2 separate regions of the Homo sapiens genome follow, and region 1 is linked to region 2. Evidence: fine-mapped expression QTL. A gene starts in region 2. The other region holds a variant in brackets. All regions are shown on one strand. Distances are between the middles of the regions. Region 1 has its middle 6.0 kb from the start of SCGB1C1. Region 2 holds the start of SIRT3 (sirtuin 3).

Region 1 (10,163 bases), 49 kb before region 2:
ACAAAGAACAAATCACAAGCTACACAAATTAAATTATTTAGGATGTGGAAGTATATAAGGACAAAATACAGAGTGCAACCAAGAATCTAACTGTATTACCAATGTATGTTGCAAGTGGTGGGCCAAAGGTGCTGAGCTGGAAATGAGTAGAATCCATAGACTAAAAACAAAACGTACTATATACACGAACAGTGGACTCTATTTTATAAAGTTATTTCCCATAGGGATAATAGTTAATTTTGAAACTACTATATCTGTAAAAAGAAAAATAACCATGATTTTCCTCTATACTATCAACACTCCACTTTTAACAGCAAATTGTGGGGGGTGGGGGGTGTTTCCCATACCAACCAATATTCCAACTCTCTGGAAAACAATTGGGTATCCTGTAATTCAACTGTGACACTGATTACCTGGAGTTAGTATACACCCTACAGGTTAAGGGCTTAGTAACACCAGACTGTCCACAACCTCAGATGCCAATCACAAGTTGTGAATCCCCAGTTTACCCAAACTTCTATATGACTTGGCTAGAAACTAGGCATTCCTACACCCCCTCTTCAGGTTTGACAATTTGCTATGATGGCTTATGGAACTAGGAAATACTTACTTATGTTTACTAGTTATTATGGTCTCAATGTGTGTACACCCCCACCCCAAATTCCTATTTTGAAATGTAATCCCCAAAGGGATGGTATTCAGAGGTAACCGAGAGGTGATCGGATCATGAGAGTGCTGTCCTCATGAATGAAACCAGTGCCCTTATAAAAGCATCTAGGAGCCCGTTTCCCCATTCTGCCATGTCACGACATGCTAGAAGGCACTATCTATGATAGATGAGCCCTCACTAGACATCAAATCTGTCAGCCTTGATCTGGAACTTACCAAATTCCATATTTTAGGAATTTTTATGGAAGCTTCATCATGTAGACATGACGGATTATTAACTCAATTTCCAGTCCCTTCACACCCTCAAAGGATTGCATGTTAAGCTAAAAGTCAGAACCTTCTTATCATGGCTTGGTCTTTCTGGTGACCATCCCCATCCTGAAACCATCCAGGAACCCACAGAGTGTCCTTATTAGAACAGAAGCCATTCCTATTATACAGGAGATTCCAAGAGATTTAGGAACTCTGCGTCAGGAACCAGGGCCAAAGACCAAATATTAGAACACAAGATGCTCCTAGCACCCCTACTGTTCAGGAAATTATAATAGTTTTAGAAGCTCTGTACCAGGAACTGCAGACACAGACCAAACATATATTTCTTATTAAGTCCCAACCTGGAATCTTGATCAAGAATGAATTCCTTGTTCCCAATGGTACAGGGGATGAAATAAATGGCAGATAGTAGGAGCCAGGTTCCTCACTATTACAGCGAGAAGTTACAGATAAAAAATAGGGAAGCCTAGAATGATCTCTGTCATAATGAGTCAGAATATATATATACAACGTAAGTATAAACTCACATTTAGCTTAACATATACATAGATGGTTCCACATAGAAACCTTTATAATTAAGTGGGTACATATAAGTTAGAAGACACACATATATTTCTTTGCACTGTCAGCTCTAAGTGTCATGATGCAATGACCACATTTAGTGGCCAGATGTAAGTTTTTCATACCATTCTCTAACAAAAGAAATCAGGGCTATTAGAAGAAATAGCTGAAACTAGGACTGGGACAGAAAATATATGAGCCAGGGTACTTTTGAAGTAACAGAAATAAATTATAAAAAAAAAACATGAAATTATGTAAAAGGAGCCAGTGGAAAGAGCTACCAATGGCCACAGGTATGAACAAAGAGCAACAAAATACTGTACAATTAGATAACAACCAAAAGATTAAAGTAACTATCTGTGGACCCATACTGGTATAAATAAATGATTAAACAGATATGCAAATGGACTGAATAGAAATCTCTTACACAGAAGAATTCCAAATACCTGATATAGACAGCCATCAAGGAGGTGGGGCTAACTCCCCACTCCTTTAAGTATGAGCTCTGCATGATGACTTCCTCCAAAAGCATACATACAATATAGACATGGGAAAAAAGTAACTTCACAGTGAAAAACCTGAAAACACTGCCTCAACCAAGTGATAAAAGTTAACATTAATGGTGATAACACATCTTGAGAGCATGAAGTGACTAGACTAGCACTTGCAAACCAAAAATAAAATTCAAAGATCTTTCCCACAACCACCTCTCCACCAGGGGACACCAAAGTTAACCTGGAAGACTGGTTCAGGCTATGATGGGAAAGAGGTGGTCAGACATGCCTCATTATGCCCTCCTCCCTTTTGGAATTCAGGAAAAGCCAATCAGCATTTAACATCAACACAACCTTAAATCTGATAAGAAACATTTACAATCTATTCTCTCTGAAGCCTGCTACCTGGAAGCTTCATCTCCATGATAAAACCTTGGCCTCCATAACCCCTTATCATAACCCAGACACTCCTTTCTATTGATAGTAAGTCTTTCAACAAACTGCCAATCAGAAAAATTTTAAATGTACCTATAACCTGGAAGCCCCACCCCCCAACCCTAATCCATTGGGTTGTCCCACCTTTCTGGACCGAACCAATATATATCTTAAATACACTTGATTGATGTCTCCTATCTCCCTAAAATGTATAGAACCAACCTGCACCCCAACGACTTTGGGCACATGTTCTCAGGGTCTCCTGAGGGCTGTGTCAAGGGCCATGGTCACTCATATTTGGCTCAGAATACATCTCTTCAAATATTTTACAGTCTTTGACTCTTTTTGTGGACACACTACACATCTGCTCTGCTTCCCCCAAACCCCTAAACCCAGGCTGATTATGAGAAAAACCCCAAGTAAACCACAATGGAGGACATTCTACACAATACCTGACCAATCCTCCTAACACTGTTCCAGGTCCTCAGAAGTAAAGTCTGAGAGACTGTCACAGCCAAGAAGAGCCTGACATGATGACTAAATGTCCTATGGGATCCTAGATAGGATCCTGGGAGAGAAAAAGGCAGAACTAAGGGAAACCAAATAAGATGTGAGCTTATTTAATAATATAGTAATATCCAGTCATTAAGTATGACAAGAAATGATGTAAGATGTTGGTCAGGAGTGGTGGCTCATGCCTGTAATCCCAGCACTTTGGGAGGCTGAGGCGGGCAGATCACCTGAGATCAGGAGTTCGAGACCAGCCTGGCCAACGTGGTGAAACCTCATCTCTACTAAAAATACAAAAATTAGCCGGGCATGATGGCAGGCGCCTGTAATACCAGCTACTCAGGAGGCTGAGGCAGGAGAATCGCTTGAACCTGGGAGGCGGAGGTTGCAGTGAGCCGAGATCACGCCACTGCACTCCAGCCTGGTTGAAAAAAAAAAAAACCTGGTCTGGAAAAAAAAAAAAAAAAAGATGTTAAACCTATCTGATACATGTTGATATGTTAAAAAGAGGGGAAACTAGGTTGCGTCTACATGGGAAATCTGCATTTTCTTCCCAATTTCTGTATGAATCTAAAACTAATTTAAAATAAAACCTCTATTTAAAAATTGTAATTTTTTCAGATATCTGCTAAATTATTTGTACTAAAAATTAGTAATTGACAGTAACTACTCCTACTTTTAAAAATAAGAGCATTCATGATACTGCAAAGTAAATTATACAGACTAATATATACTTTCAAAGAAATGCCCCTTTTACATGTTTTATGTTAAGATAACATATATGTGTAAACATGGTCATATCATTTTTCTTATGGTGTAGTTCACTCTCTAAGAAAGCTGGTCATCTTAGAACCAGGGAAAAAAATTCACATTTTGGAGACTATTTCAATTTACGGCTGGAAGTTTTCAAAGTATGACTTTGTGAAAAAAAAAAAAGTTCAAATTGATTCATTGTGACTGGATCACTTATTCTAATGAATGCTTGTCTTTATTTTGTTTCCCAGCATTCCTTTCAGCTACGATACAACAGAAGCAAATATTTGCCACTGGAAAAAATATTCAAAGACACTCTTAGGTTAATCTATAGCTGATGACAGTCAGTCTAGTCTACATAGCAAGCAGCTTCAAGATATGATTACTTAGCTAAGAGGGAAATGGGACGTGACTGCTGCCTCATTCCCACGCCTCTCTGGACCTGATAATTTAGAGGAAGCTCACATTCGCAAGATAAAAATTTTCTTTTCTTTCTCAGTATTAAATATGCTGTCACAGTAGAAGAAAGCTTTACTGACTTCTTAAATGATGTGTTGAGACCGGAAACCTAAAATGATAGTTACTGAGAATACTGCTAATGCCCTAAGACCGGAACCCTAAAATGATAGTTACTGAGAATAGTGCTAATGCCCTAAGACCGGAACCCTAAAATGGTAGTTACTGAGAATACTGCTAATGCCCTAAGACCGGAACCCTAAAATGATAGTTACTGAGAATAGTGCTAATGCCCTAACACCGGAACCCTAAAATGATAGTTACTGAGAATACCGCTAATGCCGTAAGACCGGAAACCTAAAATGATAGTCACTGAGAATACTGCTAATGCCCTAAGACCAGAACCCTAAAATGATAGTTACTGAGAATAGTGCTAATGCCCTAAGACCGGAACCCTAAAATGATAGTCACTGAGAATACTGCTAATGCCCTAAGACTGGAACCCTAAAATGATAGTTACTGAGAATACCGCTAATGCCCTAAGACCGGAACCCTAAAATGATAGTTACTGAGAATACCGCTAATGCCCTAAGACCGGAACCCTAAAATGATAGTTACTGAGAATAGTGCTAATGCCCTAAGACCGGAACCCTAAAATGATAGTTACTGAGAATACCGCTAATGCCCTAAGACCGGAACCCTAAAATGATAGTTACTGAGAATACCGCTAATGCCCTAAGACCGGAACCCTAAAATGATAGTTACTGAGAATACCGCTAATGTCCTAAGACCGGAACCCTAAAATGATAGTCACTGAGAATAGTGCTAATGCCCTAAGACCGGAACCCTAAAATGATAGTTACTGAGAATAGTGCTAATGCCCTAAGACCGGAAACCTAAAATGATAGTTACTGAGAATACCGCTAATGCCCTAAGGTTTTAGTCACACCCTCACCTAGGCAGGAACCCAACCAAAAGGGGAGAACTGTGGAACAAACTACGGGAGGTCATTGTTTCGGTCACCACTCCCGCACTAGGCCACACTGAGCAGGCAAAA[T/C]CAGAATGGAGACACTCACGCTGAATGACACACAACGAAGCTGAAACTCTAAGGAAGTAGATAGATCCCAAAAGAGCTCCCTTTTTCCCTGAAGAGATTCCAGTCTACCTGAGTCAGCATAAAGAAGTCCCCTCTGCTTTAATTCTTACCAAAACAAGTAACTTGAAGTAATCTGATATTAACAAATCAGTTGTTATTTTCTATTGCTCTATTTCCGCCTTACACAACACAGTGTTCTGCTATTGCCCAGAGGGCACTGAGACCAAATAAAACTTGAAAATGCCACACTGAAAGCAAATAAGTCCTAATAACTCAATTTACAACGACAACAAAGAGTGACACCAATGCCCAAAGTTTTGATCAATATCTCAAAATTGAGAGGCTGACCAAAAGGGAGGAATTCTTACATCAAACAACATTTGGGCTCTGGAAGCCTCCCGAGGAGTCCTTGTAAAGAGTCGCGGCCGGGCGCCGTGGCTCACGCCTGTAATCCCAGCACTTTGGGAGGCCGAGACGGGTGGCTCATGAGGTCAGGAAATCGAGACCATCATGGCTTACAAGGTGAAACCCAGTCTCTACTAAAAAAAAAAAATACAAAAAAATTAGCCGGGCTTGGTGGCGGCAGCCTGCAGTCCCAGCTACTCGGGAGGCCGGGACAGGAGAATGGCGTGAACCTGGGAGGCGGAGCTTGCTGTGAGCTGAGATCGCGCCACTGCACTCCAGCCTGGGCGACAGAGCGAGACTCCGCCTCAAAAAAGAAAAAAGAAGAAGAACAAGAAGAATCGCAACCTAATTTAGTATAGAAACAAACTGAAAATCTGACTTGGGAATGTATCATGGTAACAAATAGCGGCGGTTCAGCCAATCACATCAGCCGAGTGTCAGTCAATGGCCGGCAGCCAGCTGTTCAAAACAAGTTCCAAGAAGGCAAATCCGGGCTGTAACCAGGTCTGTAACCAATCCAGCCACCTCTATACCTCACTTCTGTTTTCTGTATGTCACTTTTTTCCTCTGGCTATAAATATAACCCGCACATGTTGTGTGGCAGATCATTCTGAACCATTTTTGGTCTGGACTGCTGCCTGATTCTAGAACCACAAAAAAAAGCCAATTAAGATCTGCAAACCCACATTTGTTGTAATTCTGTATTTTAACAGTTGTGCCCTACAAAAGACATTAAGCTGAAATTAATTAAAAATCATTTACGGTCATGATTAGGTCATAAAAAATTGTCAAACATAACAATTCTTCAAAAAAAGCTAAAAAGTATATTTTAAAAATATTGTTGATGGAAAAAAGAGTGCAAAAGTAGATAGGAAAATTATGTACAAAACTAAAAACAGAGGAGAAATTAAAAGTCAAATAATTGCATCAAACTGGAAACCTAGAAAAAATGGGTGATTTCCTAGTAAAAATACACATTAACAAAATGGGCCCTGAAATAAGGCAACTATGAATATACCAATTAGCATAGAAAAGCTAAGAAAGGTCCTTAAAGATCTCCCAGTGGAAAAAGGCCCCAGGACCATCTGGGTCCATAGCTTAGTGTAAGCTGACTTAACTAAATGTGATTTTACACTCGTGCATTGCATACATATGATGGTGGTCCCATGACATAAAAATGGAGCTGAAAAATTCCTTCCTAGCCATCTTGTCATAAGCTCATGGCTCAACGCATTACCTTTTCTCTGTTCTGATACCATGAAAGGAAAATAAATCTCAGGACCCCCAAATCACTAAGCCAAGGGAAAAGTCAAGCTGGGAGCTATGTCAGGCAAACCTGCCCTCATTCTATTCCTAACTAAGATAGCTACAAAGATAAAAAGCTACATACCTCACTCACAATTTGCCCACAAAGAATTTCCTTTTGGACAAAGGACAGACAGCACTCAAAGTCATCCCTCACCTGAGACAGATGCATATCTGATTGCTTCCTCTGCCCTATTATTTATGTAAAAATGCAGATTCATTGAGCCAGACTAAATTGTGTATTCAGTGGAAGGCTGATGAAGGATTCAAAAGAATGCAACCTTTTGTCTCTAACCTACTTCTGACCTGGAAGCACCCCCACTTCCTGCTTCCAGTTGTCCCGCCTTACTGGGCCAAATGACTGTACATCTTACACGTCTCATGTATCCCTAAAATGTACAAAAGCAAGCTCTACCCTGGCCACCTTGGACACACGTCGTCAGGACCTCCTGAGGCTGTGTCATGGTCGTGTCCTTAATCTTGGCAAAATAAGCTTTCTAAATTGACAGAGACGCGGCGCGCCGGCGCAGGCGCACAGAGGCGCGGCGCGCGGGCGCCGGCGCACAGTGGCGCGTCCCCTGGGGGGCGGGGGGAGGCGCGGCGCAGGCGCAGAGACGCACGTCGTTAGGCTGTGGGTTTGGGGGGAGGTGGGTGGTGCAGACGCAGAGTCACGCGCCACCGGGACGAGAGCGCGGGGGTGGAGCGTTGTAGGCGCAGAGACGCACGTCCTCGGGGGCGCGGCGCAGAGACGGGTTGAACCTCAGTAATCCAAAAAGCCGGGCTCGGGCGCCCCCTGCTTGCAGCCGGGCACTACAGGACCCGCTTGCCCGCGGTGCTGTCCCAGTGCGCCCCCTGCTAGCGACTAGGGCAACTGCAGGGCCCTCTTGCTTACAGTGGTGGCCAGCGCCCCCTGCTGGCGCCGGGGCACTGCAGGGCTCTCTTGCTCGCAATATAGTGGCGGCACGCCGCCTGCAGGCAGCTAGGGACGTTGCAGGGCCCTCTTGCTCACAGTGTAGTGGCAGCACGCCCGCCTGCTGGCAGATGGGGACACTGCCAGGCCCTCTTGCTTGCAGTGTAGTCGGGGCACGCCCTCTTCTGGCCGCTGGGGGCACGACAGGATCCTCTTGCTCACAGTGTAGTGGCAGCACGACCCCTGCTGGCAACCAGGGCACTGCATGGTCCTCTTGCTCATGGTGTGGTGCCCGTACGCCGCCTGCTGGCAGCTGAGGACACTGCAGGGCCCTCTTGCTCACAGTGTAGTCGTCGTACGCCCCCTGCTGGCAGCTGGGGACACTGCCGGACCCTATTGCTGTCGGTGTCGTGGCAGCACGCCACCTGCGGGCAGATGGGGACTAGGCAGGGCACTCTTGGTCCCGGTGTGACGGCCTCCTGCACCACTAAAGTCAGAGCGCCAGTTATTAAGCCCCATCAGTTCTGTAAATTCAAACTGAAACGGAGCTATTATTGGGGAGAGCTGATGTCCCAGTTCTTGTTTAACTTGGAAGAAACATTTTCACCAAGAGGCAATACAAAGATGGCAGATAACTTCATTGAAAAGAAACACAGTGTAAAGAGTTTATTGTAGAAAAATAGGGAGGAGTGGGCTGAGCGTGCATTAAAACAGCCTAAGAGTCCTGTGCAGGGAATTTTATTTTGGATTTCTTCACATTCCTGCCTCTGTCTCAAGTCTCCACCTGTTTTCTTTGTCTGGTTTTCCTGCTACTGCCTTAGCTCCCCAACTTGCCCCACTTAGGCTTGTGGGACCTCCTCACTGTTGGTTGAGGTACATGTGTGGTGATCAATACGAATCCACTCTGGCACCAGCCTCCTTCCCGCCATCCCAGGCACACTGACAGCGATCACGTTTGTACCTACTGCGCCTGCCTCTTTTGAATGTCCTTCTCTGCCCTAATCTGTACTTATGGTGCCAGGTTTCTCTTAAGAATGTCCCCTTTGGCCTTATCAGCATGTAGCTAGCAATATTCTGACATTTTTATTGCAGAGTGAATGATTGGGGCATCTTCAGAGGAGTTCTAGGGTGTTTCTTTCTGCATAGGTACCTCTTTTCCCTCCTACCCACAATTGACAAGTGCCCATCCACTCCAGCACTAGAGATGCTACTAATATGTGAATTTTTGGTGGTCCCTCCAGGTGAGCCTTCCCAGACTTTCCCTTTTCCAGGAGGCCCCCTCCTGTTCATGTCTAGCTACCTATCTACTCTAACAAAGCCCACTATCCTGTGTCTTTCCCAAAAATAGTGAGGGAACGATTAATTGGAAACCATAAGAAATGATATGGATATAGACGAAAACTTTACAACTTACACAAATAATCACTCAAAATCATCCTTACACTAAAAATGCAAAACTATACAATTTCTAGAAGAAACAATAGAAGAAAAGCTATCTGCCTTTGGGTTTGGTAATGAATTTTAACAAATGACACAAAAGGTAGATATACACAAAAGAAGTGACAGTGTGGATTTCTTAATATTTAAAGTTTATACTCTGGAAGAGACCTTGTTAAGAGAACAAAAAGACAAGCCACATATTGAAGAAAATATTTGCAAAATACACATCTGAGAAAGAATTTGTCTTCAAAATATATAAAAAATTATTAAAACTAAACAATAAGTTAAACAGCCCAACTAAAAATGCACACACATCTGAACAGACACCTCACCAAAGAAGATCTACAGATGGCAAGTAAACACATTGAAACCACAATGTGGTTACAATTGAAAACCACAATGAGATAGCACAGCTGGTCTATATCTGTTAGAATTGCTAAACTCTTTTAAAAATGACAAATTGCTGAAGGAAAAACAAGAACTCTTTTCATTGCCAGTGGAACACAGCGTATAAGACCAAAATACGCCACCCCAAAACCTAACCCTAACCCTAACCCCTAACCCCTAACCCTAACCCTAACCCTAACCCTAACCCCTAACCCCTAACCCTAACCCTAACCCTAACCCCTACCCCTAACCCCTAACCCTTACCGGTGACCCTACTGTATCCCTGACTCCTAACCAACGTTGATCCCTAACCCTAAACCCCTTACTGTAACTATAATCTTCATCCCACCCTATCCCTAGCCTTAGTGCCATCCCCCAGGCTTTTTCCAGGATGGGATTTTATGTGATTGTTTCGAATAGGTGGAAATCTCTGCTCATTTAGGAGTCGTTCAATGTAACAAGGATCTTG
Region 2 (10,163 bases):
GACTTGTCTTAAAAAATTTTTTTAATTAGCCAGGCATGGTAGTGCATGCCCGTAGTCCCAGCTATTCCAGAGGCTGAGGCAAAAGGATCACTTCGGCCCAAGAGTTCAGGCTATAGTGAGCTATGATCATGCCACTGCACTCTAGCCTGGGCAACAGAGCCAAGACCCTGTCTCAAAAATTTATATCTAATATCCAGGAACATATCTTCTATTCTACAGATACCAAGTTAAAATGAGGATATAAATATCATAAATTCCAAAAGAATTGCTTGGTAGAAACAGACAAAAAGTGACTTCTTATGAAAGTTGTGTTAGTATTAACTGGTTCTGAAAGGCTGCGGTGGCACAGCCAGGGTCCCAGCTGCAGGAGGCTTCCCAAGTCCCTGTCGCTGCCCTAACTCAGCAGTGCTGAATCTCACAGCCAGGAGCTCCCACCTTCCCACAAGGCCTGCCCTGCTGCACCTCTGGGAGAAGAGCCCACCAACATGGGGCATCCGCTGCTGCCTCTGTGGTTCCAAGTCAGGGGATCCTTCTGGCAAGGAAACACATTCCTGGAGCCAAGGTGCCACCTCTTTTTAACTGACAACACATCAGCAGTCTCTCCGGGAGCCTGGCTCCCGGAGAGCTGACTGTCCCAGCACCTGTCTGCATCACTGCACGTAAGGAAAAGGCCCCACCAAGTGCTTCCGTTAGGTGCACGGCCAGAAGTTGGCACAACCTGTGAATCGCTGGTTTGGGCACCATATGGATACGGTCAAGAAATCACCACAGACTAAGTGTGACCATATTAAGGAATTACTAGTGATTCTTCAGTGTGAATCACTATCAGAGTTGTTTTTATTTTTTAATTATTTTTATTTTTATTTATTTTTTTGAGACAGAATCTCCCTCTGTCGCCCAGGCTGGAGTGAAGTGGCACGATCTCGGCTCACTGCAACCTCCGCCTGCTGGGTTCAAGAGATTCTCCTGTCTCAGCCTCCCGAGTACCTGGGATTACAGGCACACACCACCACGCCTGGCTAATTTTTTGTATTTTTAGTAGAGACGGGGTTTTGCCACGTTGGCCAGGCTGGTCTCGAACTCCCGACCTCAGGTGATCTACCTGCCTCGGCCTCCCAAAATGCTGGGATTACAGGTGTGATCCCACACCTGTAATCCGGCACCCGGCCGGAGTTGTTTTTAAAGTATTCTCTAGAGCTATCCATTCATGTGTTTATAGATTATTTCTAGATTAAATTCATGATGTGAGAGATTTGCTTCAAAATAATCTGGGGATTTGGAAGAAGGTGGTGAGGACGCAGGAAGAACTGGCTGTGTGCTGGTGATGAGGACAGGACGGTTCGTTACATTGCTCTCTTTGTGTGTGCTCAAAAAAATTCCATAATACACTTCTTAAAAGAGAGAAGAAAAAAAGAGATCATCACACCAGATTGGCAAAACAATGTCAACTTCTGCCCAAAATACACAGCTCTGCAGGTATGCAGGAGAACAAGCAGTGGCCTTTAAACACCCAGAGGACATTTTCCTTGGGAACAAAGCCCTAACTAGTTGGCTCAAAAAAAGTCCCAAGGAAGAAGCATAAGCGATAGGTTTTGGCCGTCCCCAGAAACAGGCACCCGAGCATCCCCTGTGAGAAACAGGCACCCGAGCCTCCCTGGGAGAAACAGGCACCCGAGCCTCCGTGGGAGAAAAAGAATGTGTGCGACTCACAGAGGGCTCACCTCTCTCAAGCCCATCGATGTTCTGCGTGTAGAGCCGCAGAAGCAGCCCCTTGTCATGAAGCAGCCGGAGAAAGTAGTGAGTGACGTTGGGCTTGTAGTTTCCAGGGTACAGCTCCTTGGCCAAAGTGAAAAAGGGCTTGGGGTTGTGAAAGAAGAATGGGAGTTCAAAAATGGCCTCGGGGTACGGGAGATCGTACTGCTGGAGGTTGCTGTACAGGCCACTCCCCGGCGATCTGCAGGGAGAGAAGAAAGGCTCTGAGGCCTTTGGAAGAGGACAGGGAAGTGGAATAAACTGGGCAGTGGGGAGGGCAGGAGTCAGGGGAGGGGAGCGCAGAAGGCAGGTGGGACTGTGGGCAGTACCTGAAGTCTGGAATGCCACTGGGTGTGCTGATGCCGGCCCCCACCATGACCACCACCCTCTGGCAGGCTCTGGCCCGAATCAGCTCAGCTACATCCTGCAGGGAAAGCTTCCCCTTGTCACTGCTGCCTCCACTTCCAACAACACTTGAAGCACCCACAGAAAAAGATATGGACCTTCTTCCACCTTTAATACTGACAGAAAAAAACACAGCAGCAAAGGAAACAGATAGCAACCAATCTCAGGATAGCAAGAACGAGCATGGCTCTGCCCTCTGCACCACCGCCACCCTCGAGAATGAGCATGTGTGTCTCCCCAGGCCTCTCAAAATAATCACCTTTCTTAGACGACTATTGGGGTACAACAAAAAGCAGTCATAAATCAGAAATCAAGACTTACTTGGGAGCAAAAAATTCAGGTTAATGGGAACTGTGCTCATTTCATAATTCAGTACACTCAGTAGGCACTCAACTCTGACTGACTGCAAACCTCCAAAGGGGTCTCCTAATGAAAACTGGTTAAGGAGTCAAGAAGCAAAGAGGGAAAACCCTGGTTCTAAAACCATCTCACCACCTATTAAGCGCCCCACTTCACACAGCATTTCAGACATCTATTCACTTAAGGTCGTTCCCCAAACAGCTACTGTGCTCCTACTAAACACGAACTGTTAAGAGAAGCACAAAAGGAATGAAAGTTATTATTGCTGTTGAGTGCCTGCTGAGGGCAAGGTATCACGAAGGGTGCCTGAGTACATTCCTCATTTACGTAAATAAAATGTTTGTGAGTCACTGAAAAACACATAAACGGCGTTTTACCAAATGTCTGGAACATACGTAAGATGTATGGCTTAAAGTACATGCTGCATGGTGTGAAATTCACTGGGAGTGGGGGACCCTGAGGGGCAGGCATGGGTGCAACCTGGGAGGGACACTGTGCAAAGGACACAAACAACAAATTCAGAGAGCTCAAAAATCCAAAGCCAAACTGGAGGAAGCCCATGCAATGGACTACTCCTCACACGCAGCCCTATGCCTCCTGCTTTAGGGCCAGTGGTAGCAAGGATTTTTGTTTTGTTTTGTTTTGTTTTGTTTTGAGACGGAGTCTCGCTCTGTTGCCCAGGCTGGAGTGCAGTGTCGCGATCTCGGCTCACTGCAAGCTCCGCCTCCCAGGTTCACGCCATTCTCCTGCCTCAGCCTCCCGAGTAGCTGGGACTACAGGCACCCGCCACCACGCCTGGCTAATTTCCTTGTATTTTTAGTAAAGACGGGGTTTCACTGTGTTAGCCAGGATGGTCTCGATCTCCTGACCTCGTGATCCGCCCGTCTCGGCCTTCCAAAGTGCTGGAATTACAGGCGTGAGCCACCGCGCCCGGCCGCAAGGATTTGTTTTAACAGTTTTGCAGAGTATCACAGATATTAGAATGCGCTCCACGTGTTTGTAGGTCCTGGTCCCTGCTCCATCCATAGCACCTAGAACAGAGTCTGGCACAGAATAAGAGCTCAGTCAGGGCTTCTTGGATGAACGACTGACTCTTCGGGATCTTTGTTTTTTTTTGAGACGGAGTTTTTGCTCTTTCGCCCGGGCTGGAGTGCAATGGTGCCATCTCGGCTCACTGCAACCTCTGCCTTCCGGGTTCAAGTGATTCTCCTGCCTCCGCCTCCTGAGTAGCTAGGATTACAGGCGCCCGCCACCACGCCCGGCTAATTTTTGTAATTTCAGTAGAAATGGGGTTTCACCATGTTGGCCCAGCTGGTCTCGAACTCCTGACCTCGTTATCCACCCGTCTCATCCTCCCAAAGTGCTGGGATTACAGGCGTGAGCTACCGCGCCCGGCCAACTCTTCAGGATCTATTAAACTTTTTTCTTTTTTTTTTCCCACAGGTAGATAAGAGTCTTGCTCTGTCACCCAGGCTGGAGTGCAGTGGCTCAATCATAGCTCACTGCAGCCTTGAACTCCTGGACTCAAGGGATCCTCTTGCCTTAGTCTCAGGAGTAACTGGGACAACAGGCTTGCGCCACCATGCCCGGCTAATTTTTAAATTTTTGGTAGAGATGGGGGTCTCGTTATGTTGCCCAGGCTGCTCTTGAACTCCTGGCCTCGAGCGATCCCCGTCTCAGCCTCCGAAAGTGCTGGTATTACAAGTGTGAGCTACCACTTCGAGACTCACTTTTCACCAACATTTTCAGCAGTTGTGTCAGACAGCAAGTCAATGTGCCATTATTTACTTAAATATTCATCCATTATAGGGCATCTGATACCTAACAACCATGGACCTTAAGATTTTTTCCTATGTAGCCTCAGTTCTTAGATGCAATTACTATGGAGACGGGTACGATCACATGCCAGTGGGAGTATTAACCGCACAACATTTATGAGGGATCATTAAAGCGTTAAATGCATATACTTTTGGACCTAGCAATCCCAGTACTAGGAATTTATGCAAACAGTGAGGTGCCAACAAGGTTATTCACCACAGCATGATGCACAATAACTAAAGGTTAGAACGTATTTCAATGAGGGAATGGTGAAATAAACGACAAAACCCCCATAAGTGACGTCCACAGATCAGCATAAAGACGGAGGCCCCGGTGTTGGAACGCACGTAAACTCCCAGACATGCCGCAAAGGAAACACGGCAAGGTGAGAAAGAGTGGGCGAGGTGTCGACAACGAACACGCAAGAAGTGCTTGTCCTTGCCCAAAATACCTCGAAAAGAAGAAACTGGGAGCTGCTGCCCTCGGCTGCCTCCGGAATGCCCTGGGCACCTCGGGTCTGGGAGGCCTCTGCAAGGGGCGCGCCGGGTCCAAGGGCTCACCGCGGGCCCCATGGCTGCCTCTCAGCCCCGCACTCACATCGTCCCTGCCGCCAAGCACCAGCCGACAGCCGCAGGCCTGAAACGGCCCCACGCCTCCCCCGGCCTCGACCCGTTCAACTACCCGGCCCCACAGCCGGAGGGCTGCCGCGGCGCGCCAACCCCAGAACGCCATGTTCCGCGCAGTCCAAGGAGTCCTCCGGACTCGCCCCGCCCCCGGCGCCCCGGCCCCGCCTCCGCCTCCCACCCCCGCCCCCGGCGCCCCAGCCCCGCCTCCGCCTACCGCCCCCGCCCCCGGCGCCCCGGTCCCGCCTCCGCGCCCCGCCCCCGCCTCCTTGCCGACGCCTCCGGCGCGCCCAGGTAGACGTAGAGGCGAGTAGAGGAAGTTCCCTAGTCTGGTGTCTCATCTCTCGCCCCGGAGGTCAAACCTGGAGCCAGCATTTCTGTACCCTGCGCTCACACCTTTTTCAACCCGGATGGCGGTGATAGTTAATACTTTCTGAGCGCTTTTACTATGGTCAGGCATTATATTTACACCTAATCCTCGCAAAACACTACTGGGAAGATCCTCATTTGACAGGAGCAATTCCGGGTCACAAAGGCTGACACCACAAAGCTAGTCCGTAGCGGGTTCGACCACAGGCGCCCACACTCTTTGACGCCTCAATGGCACAGCCAAGTGCGCGGGAAGTGGGCTGCAAACGCCGGAGAGTTTTGTCCGGAGCGCAGAGACGCGCTGTAACCGAGCAACCAGCGGGGCCCGCCCCCGGCCTGCTACGGCGCTCCCAGCCTGCCCCGCGCCGCTCGGCGCCGGAAGTGAGTGAGCATTTCCGGCAGCCATCCCCGCGGTGCTGACATCCCGGTTGTTCTTCTGTGCCGGGGGTCTTCCTGCTGTCATGAAGGACGTACCGGGCTTCCTACAGCAGAGCCAGAACTCCGGGCCCGGGCAGCCCGCTGTGTGGCACCGTCTGGAGGAGCTCTACACGAAGAAGTGAGCGCCGAGCAGACGGGCCCTGGGCCCCGGCGATAGAGGGAGACGGAGGGGGCAGGCGGGCGGAGGAGCGGACCCTTGATGGGCTGAGGGCGCCCAGACCCAAGTTGGGGGGAAACGGGGACGTGTAGCGACCGGCTGTGCCGGCAAGGTTTGCTGAGGAACCTTGAGTGGCAGGGTCGAGGAATAAGAGGGATGACAGACCACGAGGGCCAAGAGCTGTAGCCAGGATGTTTCGGTCTGAGATTCACTGCTTCCTTAACGGGGGACTGAGACTGAGGCTTCTGAACTCCTACCTCGGGTCTTACTAAAACGGTTCAGGAGTAGCCTTTGATTTTAGCTCTTGATTCCATCTAACAAGCAAACACACTTTCAGGGCCACCACCCACTTTGGGAAACATGTTGGTGATTCGTGCTTAGCCTTGTCATAGTGTAACTGTATCTACAGTTATCTTTCTCATGGTCTGGAGTTGATAAACCAGAGGCTAGTACAGCTTTGCTGTTTTCCCTATTCATTCTGCAGCTGGTTGCACGGGGTGCAACCACTTCCGCCGTCCCATTGTCTTTACCTTCCATTGTATTTCTCATGGGCTTTCTGCCCCTAGAAAGATCTTAAAGTTTAGGTTTGTTTAGAAACAGGATGAATTGCAGAGCAATTAAATTCTTGCTAAGCACTAACCTCCTTTTAATATGAGTAGAATAAATTGCTGGCATTGGGCTGGAGCTATTCCATAGAAAATACATCTCCTGTAGTAACCTCCCTGTTAACCCTAGCATTTAATATAATACCTTTCACATAGATGTTCCATACATGTTTTGATGATGTTTAGCATTCAGCAGCCTTCTGCTATTAGCAGTTTTTGAGAGCAAATTAATGTTTGGCAAATAATGGTTTGTGTTGGATAGCACTTGGTAATTTTCAAAGCATTTTATCTGCGTTATTAAATATTAGCCTTTGGGTTTTGGATGAAGCGCTATGTCACTGTCCCTGAGGTTTTAAATATTAGCTTATTTAATCCTTTATTCATCCTTTTCACAGAGGAGGAAACTGAAGCTCATTTTAATTGCCTTCCCTGAGATACTCAGCTAATAGGTAGAAGAGCCAGCATCTCAAGTTAGATATGTATGATTCCAAAGTTCTCGTTTCCAGTGAAACCTCACAATAACCCTTTGAGTTAATCTAGATTAATGTTCTCCATTTCATACCTGGGAAAACTGAGTCTTAGAGAAGTTAAGTGATCTCAAAGTGACATAGCCATTCAATAGCAGAGCCAGGAAAAGAACTCAGGTTTATCACATCTGCTTTAGCATTCTTTCTGCTACACCGTAGAGACTGGTTAGTATGGATTTAGTATCCCTTATCAGAAATGCATTGGGGCGGCCGGGCGCAGTGGCTCATGCCTGTAATCCCTGCTACTCGGGAGGCTGAGGCAGGAGAATCACTTGATCCTGGGAGGCAGAGGTTGCAGTGAGCCGAGATGGCGCCACTGCACTACAGCCTGGGCAACAGAGTCAGACTCTGTCTCAAAAAAGAAAGAAAGAAATGCATTGGGGCAAAAGTTTTTTTGGATTTAGTATTTTTTCAAATTTTGAAATATTTGCGATATATACTTACCCGTTCAGTATCCATAAATCAAAAATCTGAAATCTGAGATGCTCCAGTGGTCATTTCCTTTGAGCCCTATGTTGGTGCTCAAAAAGTTTTGGATTTTGGAGCATTTTGAATTTTGGAGTTTTGGAGTTTTGGATTAGAGATACCCAACCTGTATTTGTGACTTGATAGAATCATCAAGGCTGGAGGTGTCTGTGACTGGATATTAGGTTAGAGGTCTTAAGGGCTGTATGTTTTTCAGGTTGTGGCATCAGCTGACACTTCAGGTGCTTGATTTTGTGCAGGATCCGTGCTTTGCCCAAGGAGATGGTCTCATTAAGGTAAATAATTTGCTATACCAGATTAGATTATATGAATGTGCTCAAGGACTTTTGAAAATAAGATAGGCTTTATGCTAATAATAATAATAAGCTCCAATATTCAGCAGTCACTTTACGTCAGGTACTGGTCTGAGCGCTTCACATATCCTTCATGACAACGCTGGTCAGTAGATACTACTATCTCACTTTTTTGATGTAGAAGCAAACATAAGACTTTAAGTAACTTACCATAGATCACTGCTGATAAGTGGCAGAAGAGGATTCAAACACTGACATTCTGGCTTTTTTTGAAATTCTAGCATAAAGTATTATCTTACAACATGCCTAAGTATCTTAGTTCATAGGCTTCTTTTTAGTACTCTAGTTTTAGAAACAAAGTTCAAACCCAGTTAGAGGGTGGAGTAAGGTATGAGGAAGATTACTATCTGTGGGAATCTTAGATAACTTCCATCACTCCCCTTCTTTAAGCCGCACTGCTTGCTTGCCCAGACACTTCTGTCCTGGGTAGTGTGGAAAATAAAACACCTTTTGTACTTCGGTTGAGGGTAGGTGGATTGGAGGGAGAGTCCTGTATAGTGTCATGCTGCCTCTGTAATAGAGGACTTTTAGAATTTTTTCAGCAGTAGACAAATACGCACCTTCTTTCCCAGCCTTCCCCAGATCCCCTGACACATCCCCACGAATTTGCTCACTGGTAGCCTCCTCTTTGAAGTTTTTCCTGACATCTTACTCTATGATGGCTTTCTCTGATTCTGAATGAATCAGAGATTCATACCAGCATTGCAACTGATAGCTTATAATTACATTTTGAGTCATTTCTCCTGAATACATTACTTTTATATGCTCGCAATAGAGCTTACCACCTTGCTACCCCACCACCTGGGCTTGTAAGATTTTCTTGTGGTTTATAGCCATCAATTTGACATTTTACTATTCAGAGGAACTTACAATCATCTGTAAGCCTGGAGATTTTGCTGAACATTCAGTCTTCTGGATTATGTGGGAAAATGATAAATGAGACCTGCTTTTTTTTTTTTTTTTTTTTTTTTTTTGACGGAGTTTCGCTCTTGTTGCCCGGGCTGGAGTGCAATGGTGCGATCTTGGCTCACTGCAACTTCCACCTCCCGAGTTCAAGCGATTCTTCTGCCTCAGCGTCCCAAGTAGCTGGGATTACAGGTGCCCACCACCACAGCCAGCTGATTTTTGTATTTCTTAGTAGAGATGGGGTTTCACCAGTGTTGGCCAGGCTGGTCTCAGACTCCTGACCTCAGGTGATCTGCCTGCCTTGGCCTCCCAGAGTGCTGGGATTATAGGCAGGAGCCACTGTGCCTGGCCTGAGACCTGTCTTAATACTTGTTCCCTAAGGTTCTAAATCATCACGATAGATGATTCATAATTGTTTATCTCTGTCCTTTGGTTTCTTATCTTTAAATCACTTTTCTACACATGACAAAATATTTCCTCAACCTCATGGTAAGGTGATGTTTATTTAGGTTGGCAGATCTGAGTTTACTTTTCCCATAGACAGAATAAACCTTTAAAATTTGTTGGGATCCAGCTAGCATAAGTGTAAAATGGATAGTATTTTTGAATTTATAGTCACCAGAAGTAATTTTGACTTTCTGGACTTAGTGGGCTTCTTTTTTAAGGTAATTTTTTAGATTAATACATGTCAGGAAAGTTCAAACATTTCCTTCTAATAAGGAAGATATCTTTGAAATAGTCTTTTGTAATAAAAATGCCATTTTATTTATTTATTATTATTATTTTTTGAGACGGAGTTTCATTCTTATCACCCAGGCTGGAGTGCAATGGCACAGTCTCAGCTCACTACATCCTCCTCCTCCCGGGTTCCAGTGATTCTCCTGCCACAGCCTCCAGAGTAGCTGGGATTACAGGCACCCGCCACCACGCCTGGATAATTTTTGTATTTTTAGTAGAGACAGGGTTTCATCATGTTGACCAGGCTGGTCTCAAACTCCTAACCTCAGGCGATCCACCCGCCTTGGCCTCCCAAAGTGCTGGGATTACAGGTGTGAACCACCACCTGGCCACCATTTTATTTATTTTGGGTGGGCAAAGGGACAGAGTCTCGCACTGTCGCCCAGGCTGGAGTGCAATGGCAGATCTCAGCTCGCTGCAACCTCCGTCTCCCCAGTTCAAGCCATTCTCATGCCTCAGCCTCCCAAGTAGCTGGGATTACAAGCGTGTGCCACCACACCTGGCTAATTTTTGTAGTTTTAGTAGAGATGGCATTTCACCATGTTGGCCAGGCTGGTCTTGAACTCCTGTCCTCACGTGATCCACCAGCCTCGGCCTCCCAAAGTGCTACATAACAGACGTGAGCC

What was found. PIP is the estimated chance that this variant, and not a neighbour inherited with it, causes the effect.
Region 1: its variant is fine-mapped to the expression of SIRT3 in thyroid (GTEx, PIP above 0.99).

The regions. Positions count from the first base shown.
Region 1 is chr11:181,956-192,118 of GRCh38, forward strand. It overlaps a transcript of SCGB1C1 not described here. Among named protein-coding and RNA genes, the nearest start is that of SCGB1C1, 6.0 kb to the right of the region's middle. The variant T/C (reference allele first, on the strand shown) is at 5,209.
Region 2 is chr11:231,262-241,424 of GRCh38, forward strand. It overlaps SIRT3 (sirtuin 3), which reads right to left and starts at 5,081. Exons shown (of 7, transcript NM_012239.6): 1 at 4,787-5,081; 2 at 2,082-2,273; 3 at 1,722-1,954. The coding sequence starts at 5,067. PSMD13 (proteasome 26S subunit, non-ATPase 13) reads left to right here and starts at 5,715. Exons shown (of 13, transcript NM_002817.4): 1 at 5,715-5,883; 2 at 7,737-7,815. The coding sequence starts at 5,789. RefSeq lists a silencer at 5,147-5,226 and enhancers at 5,377-5,566, 5,727-5,966.